Linked DNA regions of Homo sapiens: region 2 is linked to region 1. The links come from fine-mapping of genetic effects on gene expression. A gene starts in region 1. The other region holds a variant in brackets. All regions are shown on one strand. Distances are from middle to middle.

Region 1 (4,523 bases):
CAACTCTGCTCCAGGCTTTCTTAGCCCTATGTTCTCTCCTTCCTAACACTTACTGAAGACGTAGTTTTGCTCCGATCTGTCTGATTATTTGATTAATGTCTGTCTCCCCAAGAGACTGTGAGCCCTTTAGGGATATGATGGTGTCTGTCTTCACTCCCACTCTATCACCAACTAGTGCCAAGCGCTGTGTCCCCACAAGTAGGTGCTTGATAAATATTTGTTGAATGAAGAAATGACTCCCAACAGCTATGACTCTGCCTTCTGAGAGGTTTTCTGGAAAGAATGAGTTCTCTGGCAGCGTGTCTCCAGAATTCCAGGGAGGGGCTGGGTGGGGATGGGGGTGGTTCTGAGGCTACTAAAGAGAAAGACCAAAGGTTGTATAGGCAAATCCTACCTGCCAATGCCCCAGACTCAAATGCATCAGGCTCATTCCCGGAAGGACAGAGAGGGCTGGCTTGCTACAGAGGTGATATGAAGGGCAAAGAAAAAGCCTCCTGAACCCAGATGGAAGTCTAAATGCTAAGGAATGTTCTGGATCCTCGTCATCAGAAAATCCATAGAGAAGTGAACTGATGTCCCCCCAAACCAGTGCCCAGTGGGTAACGGGAATAGAGGAATGTGCTGTTCATTATAGCCACTAAAAGTCTGCAGAAGTGACAATGCTCTTGCAGGTGAGGGTAGTGATGCGAGGAGTCATTTTCATGCTAGTTAAGAAATATCTATCAGGGCTGGGCACGGTGGCTTAAGCCTATAATCCCAGCACTTTGGAAGGCCGAGGCGGGCAGATCACCTGAGGTCAGGAGTTCAAGACCAGCCTGACCAACATGGTGAAACCCCCGTCTCTACTAAAAATACAAAAATTAGCCAGGCGTGGTGGCATGGGCCTGTAGTCCCAGCTACTCAGGAGGCTGAGACGGGAGAATTGCTTGAACCCGGGAGGCGGAGGCTGCAGTGAGCCAAGATCGTGCCACTGCACTCCAGCCTGGGAGACAGCGTGAGACTCCATCTCAAAAAAAAAAAAAAAAAAAAAAAAAGCAATCTCTATCAGGCACTGTATTAGGTGTTGGAGATACTGAAATGTACAAGACAGGCATGGCCCCTTTTCTCAGGGAGCTCAAAGACTAGTGGGAGAAACAGATAGTAAACAGGCAATTACAGGCAGACAGAGCTTGAAAATAGGATAACAGTACCTACCTTAAAAGGATGTTGTGAAATTAAACGAGATAATCCACGTAAAGAGTTTTCTCAGGGCTTGGCATAGAGTAAGCCCTCTCAAAATGATAACTATTTTTCTCGCTTCTGATAGGGAAGTTAAAATGCAGGGCTCTGTGAAAGGGAAGTGTAAAAAAGATTTCTTCCAGGTCGGAGCCTAGGGAGTCGCAAAGACCACCTGAAGAAATCACAAAAGATCTAAAGAACGTTTAGCTTGAGAGGGAGGAGGAGAAAAAAATAGCAACTCGGTAGCAGTTCAGCTTCACCACTTTACAGCCTATGAAGTATTTGGCTTCCCTCATCTGGTTCGATCTTCAAAGCAACCTAATCAGACCGGCGTCTAGAGTTAATATTTCCATTTTACAAAAGAGGAAAGTGAGACACAGCGCGGAAAAGGACTTGTTCAGAACGAGTCATAAAGCAAAGAAGCCGACCTTTATGGTCCATTATGTGTGGGAAAAATGAACAAACACCGCGGGGCGTTCGTGAAATACTAAGTTATAAACATGGAACAAAGTCCAAGAGTTAACGAGAGCGAAGCATCACTTCTAGGGGTGGGCCGGGTAGGTTTCCTAGGGGAGCTGGCATTGGAATAGGCTTCTTCGCCTGCTTAGTGTCAGGACCCCCAGGGTTTTACCTCTCTCCTTCAGGCGGGTGGGCGGGTTCGCTCAGGAAGTAGCCGCTTGGGGAAGCCTTAGGCAAGGTTCTTCGGGAGAGAGACCCGTCATGATCCCGCAGCCTCAATCCCCGCTGGCCTAACGCTTTGGTTTCCATAGCAATGGGCTCGTCGCAGAAAGGAATAGCCTGTGCCGGGTCTTCAGAGAAATCCTGGCCTCGGCTCCACGCCCCTGAGCAGCCCCACCCTGGCTCAACCTGTTACCCGCCCTGCCGGCAAGCCGGGGTCACTGCAGTCCCCGTGGCGAAGCAGGGTCAGCTCAGCTCACCGCACCCCACTCCATCCAGCCCTGCCCATCTCTACGGCAACGGGCCGGGTCGCACCAGGGCTGCAGCCGAGAGACAGTCTCACCGCTTCCGTAGCCGCCCGGGCTCTGTGCGCATGTGCGACACTCCCTCCCCGGCCCCGCCCCCTTATGCGTCTCCCAGGCAACGCGCCGCGCGGGGCTCCAGGTTCCGCCCAGGGACTAACTCCAGGTCTGCGCGCGTCCAACGAGCACGGCTCTCAACCGGCCTCCTGGCGCCCAACGACCATGGCTTCCAACCGGCCTCCGTGCGCCCAACGACCATGACTCCCAACCGGCCTCCAGTTTCCAACTGTTTCTCGAACAGGGAAGCCGCCATGACACAGCTGACTACGCCCTTGGTCACAGGGGACCTGAGATCCTCCACGATTTACGGGACCGGCGCCACCTCGGGCTCGAACCACCCTCTCGATAGGGCCGCCGCTAAGTAATCGGCGTAGGGGTTCAGCCGCACATCTCCTTCCCGCGCCGCGGACCGAGCAGTCGTTGGTGCTCTTCAGGTGCGGCCTGGGTGCCCAGAGCCTTCGTTAGACTCTCGGACCCGCAAGGGAGCCCGAACTCTTTCAGACTCGCTCTCCCTCAGCCGGACCTCGGCCCTTTTTCACACCCCAGGGGAGTCTGGATTTCTCATAGTCCTGGGCACCAGCCCCTTCCCAGTCTAGCTCTTGGGACTCCCTGAAGCCGGAACTCCCTCGCCTGGACTCCCGGGAGAACCTGGAATCCCCATCTCCAGTCCACATTTTCTCAGAATCTGTCCTAGCCCTTCAGTCTCCCAGGCATGACATCGTGTGGTCCCAGCGCCCTAGGTGGTGAGCTGTGACTCTCCTTAGAGCCTGGCGAGGCCGAGGTCCTCCCCAGCTCGAACCCATCCCACACTCCCCTTCTCAGCCTCTGTGTTCCCCAGTGGTCCTGGAAAAGCCCCCAGTTCCCTCTGCCTGGCCCCAATCCTCACAAACCCAATTACCCACGCTCCTTTCCATTCCATAACCCCCATCACTGCATCCTCCAGGCTCCCATCCATGGAGGACTTGAGGTGGAAAGCAATTTGGTTCAAAATAACCATTATTTATTACTTGAAAGGGAATATTTCCAGTCGTTGCCAGCCTCCTCCCCTTCTAGTATTGGTAAATTTTTTGCACCACTGAGTGGGTGAAGAGTTTTATGCGTCTTTAAATGTTTTAAGGATTTTTTTAAAAAAACAAAAAACTCTCAGGATTTGGGGGACTTTTGTGTTTGAGCATCTTGATCTCTAAACCAGCTTTTTCCATCACCTCACACCTAGGCTATGCATAGAGGTCAGAAAAATGTAAATGAGAGATTGAGAAGTTGGATTGTTCATACTAGTTTGTAAATATGAAAACATTCACAACACTCCAGTTCCAAATAGGCTGAAAATGCATTAGAAAAACTAGTCCTTCAATATTTTTTATCCTTCTACAGTTGTCTTTTTTGACCCAATTATAAAAGTAGTGTACACTTATAGAAAAATGAGGACAGGCATGGTGGCTCACGCTTGTATTCCCACCACTTCACTTTGAAACGCTGAGGCAGTTGGATCACCTGAGCTCAGGAGTTCGAGACCAGCCTGGGCAACAGGGTGAAACCCCATCTCTACCAAAAATACAAAAAATTAGCCGGGCTTGGTGGCTCACCTGTGGTCCCAGTTACTCAGGAGGCTGAGGTGGGAGGATCACTTGAGCCTGGGATGTGGAGGTTGCAGTGAGCTGAGATTGTGCCACTACTCTCCAACCTGGGGGACAGAGTGAGACCCCGTCTCGAAGAAATAAAAAGAAGACAAGACAGGCCAGCAGCATAAGTGGCTAGGGACAATCACTGTTAACATTTTGGTGTATTTTGATCAGAATCCATTCATATATATATATATATATATATATATATATGTTACAACATGCTTATACTTAAAAAAGATACATCACAAAAGTTCACTTTTTAGTAACCTGCTTTTTTCTCCCATCTAATATACCACCCGTCTATGTTTCATACACAATTACATGTATTTTATTTTATGACATACCAAAATTTATTCAATTGCTTCCATACTGTAGATTTTGTTTCCGCATTTTAGAAAGAAAATATGAACAATTTTTTTTTTGAGACAGAGTCTAGCTCTGTGGCCCAGGCCCGAGTGCAGTGGCACAGTCTTGGCTCACTGCAACCTCTGCCTCCTGGGTTCCAGTGATTCTCCTGCCTTAGCCTCCTGATTAGCTGGGATTACAGGTGCTCACCACTACACCCGGCTAATTTTTGTATTTTTAGTAGAGATGGGGTTTCACCATGTTGGCCAGGCTGGTCTCGAACTCCTGACCTCAA
Region 2 (4,000 bases), 49 kb after region 1:
TTGCTCAGGTTAGCCTGGAACTCCTGGGCTCAAGGAATCCTCTCTCCTCATCCTCCCAAAGTGCTGAGATTACAGGCATGGGCTACTGTGCTTGGCCCAACAATGTTTCTTAAAGGTTCCAGTTTCTCTACGTCCTTGCCAATGATTTATTTTCTGTTTTTGTTTTGTTTTGTTTTTGATAGTAGCCATCCTAATGGATGTGAGATGGTATCTATTGTGGTTTTGATTTGCATTTCTGTGATGATAAGTGATGAGCATCTCTCTCTCTCTTTTTTTTTTTTTGGCCAGGGAGGAGGGGACAGAGTCTTGCTTCATTGTCCAGGCTGGAGTGTAGTGGCATGATCATGGCTCACTGCAGCCCCAACCTCTGGGGCTCAAGTGATCCTCCCACCTCAGCCTCCTGAGTAGCTGGGAATACAGGTGTGCACACCACCACACATGGCTAATTTTTAGATTTTTTTTTTTTTTTGAGGTGGAGTTTCACTCTTGTTGCCCAGGCTGGAGTGCAATGGCGCCATCTCGGCTCACTGCAACCTCTGCCTCCTGGGTTCAAGCGATTCTCCTGCCTCAGCCTCCCAGGTAGCTGTGATTGATTACAGGTGCCTGCCACCATGTCCAGTTAATTTTTTGTGTTTTTAGTAGAGACGGGGTTTCAACATGTTGGCCAGGCTGGTCTTGAACTCCTGACCGCAGGCGACCTTCCCACCTTGGCCTCCCAAAGTGCTGGGATTATAAGCATGAGCCACCACACCTAACCTTTTTTTTTTTTTTTTTTTAACACAGGATCTTGCAGTGTTATCCAAGCTGGTCTCGAATTCCTGGGCTCAAGTGATCCTCCCACCTCAGCCTCCCAAAGTATCCCACCTCAGCCTCCCGAAGTATCGGGATTACAGGCCTGTGCCACCATGCCCAACCACAAGCATCTTTTCTTTCTTTCTTTCTTTCTTTTTTTTTTTTTTGAGACAGAATCTCGCTCTTGTCGCCCAGGCTGGAGTGCAATGGCATGGTCTCGGCTCACTGCAACCTCCACCTCCTGGGTTCAAGTGATTCTTCTGCCTCAGCCTCCTGAGTAGCTGTGATTACAGGTGCCTGCCACCACACCCAGCTAATTTTTGTACTTTTAGTAGAGATGGGGTTTTGCCATGTTGGCCAGGCTGGTCTTGAACTCCTGACCTCAGGTGATCTGCCTGTTTCAGCCTCCCAAAGTGCTGGGACTACAGGCATAAGCCACCACACCTGGCTGAGCATCTTTTCATATGCTTGTTGATCGTTTGTATAACATCTTTAGAGAAATGTCTGTTCAAATCCTTTTTTTGTTTGTTTGTTTTTTTGTTTTGTTTTGTTTTTTGTTTTTTTGAGACAGAGTCTCACATGGTTGCCCGGGCTGGAGTGCAATGGCTCAATCTCGGCTCACTGCAACCTCCGCCTCCCAGGTTCAAGCAATTCTCCTGCCTCAGCCTTCTGAGTAGCTGGGATTACAGGTGCCCACCACCACGCCTGGCTAATTTTTTGTATTTTTGTAGAGATGGGATTTCACCATGTTGGCCAGGCTGGTCTCGAACTCCTGACCTCAAGTGATCTGCCCGCCTCAGCTTCCCAAAATGCTGGGATTACAGGTGTGAGCCACCATGCCTAGCCCCTTTGCTCATTTTTTAATCATTTATTTGATTTTTGTTGTTGAGTTGTAGAAGTTCTTCTTACATTCTAGACATTAACCCACTGTCAGATATATGATTAGCAAATATTTTCTCCTATTCCATAAGTTTCCTTTTTACTTTGTTGATTGTGTCCTTCAAGGAACTTAAGTTGTGTCCTTCGATGGAGTCCCATTTGTCTGTTTTTGCTTTTGTTGCCTGTGCTTTTGGTGTCATATCCAAGAAATCATTGCCAAATCCAATGTCATGAAACTTTATGCCTATGGTTTTCTCTAGGAGTTGTACAGATGTTACATTTAGGCATTTAAATCTATTTTGTTTTAATTTTACTGTTTTTGTGTGTGTGTGTGTGTGTGTGTGTGTGTGTGTGTGTGTGTGTAGAGACAGGGTCTCGCTATGTTGCTCAGGCTGATCTTGAACTCCTGGCCTCAAGTGATTCTCCTACCTCAGCCTCCCAAGTAGCTGGGATTATAGGCAAGAGCCACTGCACCTTGCTGGGTCTTTAATCCATTTTGAGTTAATTTTTGCATATGGTGTGAGATAAGGGTCTAACTTCATTCTTTTGCACAAGGACATCCAGTTTTTTCAACATCATTTGTTGAAGAGACTGTCCTTTCCCCCACTGAGTCATCTTGGCATCCTTGCCAAAGATCATTTGACACAGGGAAAAAATCAAGGCCTTTTGAAAAAC[G/A]CCTACACTAAGGGGAAATGACACATGTTTTACTGTCCAGCTGCAGCTGTGCCATCCAGGACCAGATGGGAAGTTACATCCAGGAAAGTGGACCTCTAGAGTCCCTTCTCACATCTCTAGGCTTTGCTCACTAGCTATAAAGCCCTGTACTTACAAAAAGAATGATTGCCATAGCCTGTAAGAAAGCAGATGGAAGTCAAAAGCAGATCCTTAGGTTGATGACAAAGATTGCTGGTTGAGACTCTTATTTTGACACTTAGAGTCTCCTTATTCATCTTCTATTCATCTCAAATATGTGCCAACATGACTCCCCCTCAGGACTGGCCTCATCTCTGCCTCTCCAGCATCATCATCTCCTGCTGATCCCTTGCTCTACTCTGACACCTCAGTGACAATGGGTTGTGTGTGCATTCTGACAGGCGAGGGTGGGCGGGAGTTAGAATCGAGTCCTCAGCTCACCTGTCCTCCTGGATCAAGCAACTTCAAAACACATTGCCCAGTGGTGATTTAAACTCTGAGGTTAAAGCAGCAGTGGTTTTCTCTTGCTTGAGGGTCCGCAGATGACCAGGCCAGGTCTCCTTCAGGCAGTGGCACTTGGGAGTAAGCTAGGAGGTGTGTCTTCCTGTTGTGATGGCAGAAGTACAGGAGGGTAATCGAGAGTCACAGCATCCCAGCTTGAGCCTGCACACCCTCACTCCATTCCACATTCCATTGGCTGAATCAAGGCATGTGGCCCTGTCCAATATCAGTAGGGTGGGAAGATATCCATTCCCCATTTTAGAGGATCCTACAAAGTCCAGTGGCAAAAGTTGTGCACTTAAAATTGTAGTTCAGGGATGGCAGAAAGAAACAGGAGAAATGCTTCAGTCTGTCACAGCCTCTAACCTCCCTTCTAACGATCACATCCTTTAGCCTCTTTATCTATAGAGTGAGAGGACTAGGCTAGGTGATGTCTGGGGTTCTTTCTATCCTTACCTTTCTGAAAATTTGATGGGAAACCATCTGGAAGGAGGAGGAGGAGAGATGAGATATAAAAGATGACCTGTATGCTTGGCACTGGGCTTGGCACATCAAAGGACTCGGGAAATGTCTGTTGACTTAATGGCTTGGAGATCTGAGTCCAGGAGGCCAGGAATCTGGTGACTGACCTGGTAGGGAAAGAATGGGGGATGCTTTAGCTGGGCCTCAGGTGTTCACTGGCCTTCCTGCCCCTGGGGCCACAGGCCCTGGGCACTGCTGTTGGAGTTGCAACTTTACAACTTCGGAGTTGCAGTGACAACATCCGGGTGCTTGTCTCCCCCTTTTTTTTCCCCCTGCCAGTACTAACAGATTTGTTGCAGAAATGGCCTGGGCCCTTGCTCCTGAGCCCTGGGGCAGCATGGGAACAGGGCTGATGGTGTGTTCTGGTTCTCAGACTTGGGAGCCTTGCGGGCAGACTGAGTGGGGACTTTTTGCTGAGTTGTTCATGCACTGTGACAAGAAAGGCACCTTCTTTGAATTTTTTATTTTCAGAAAATAAAATTATTTTGCTAGATACAGGCATGGAAGCAATTTTCTTCTTTTGAATCCTGCAGTTCTTCTGAGTTTGAATTTATCTGTCAGCTTACTGAGCCTTTGCCTTCTAGAGACGGGATTAGAGTGTTCTTAACCTTGA

The links.
Region 2: its variant is fine-mapped to the expression of DUSP18 in fibroblasts (GTEx, PIP above 0.99).

The regions. Positions count from the first base shown.
Region 1 is chr22:30,665,613-30,670,135 of GRCh38, forward strand. DUSP18 (dual specificity phosphatase 18) reads right to left here and starts at 2,263. Exons shown (of 2, transcript NM_152511.5): 1 at 1,850-2,263. It also overlaps a transcript of SLC35E4 not described here. RefSeq lists an enhancer at 2,361-2,750.
Region 2 is chr22:30,715,100-30,719,099 of GRCh38, forward strand. All of the region lies in intron 1 of OSBP2 (oxysterol binding protein 2), which reads left to right. Among named protein-coding and RNA genes, the nearest start is that of MIR3200, 14 kb to the right of the region's middle. RefSeq lists an enhancer at 1,749-2,948. The variant G/A (reference allele first, on the strand shown) is at 2,347.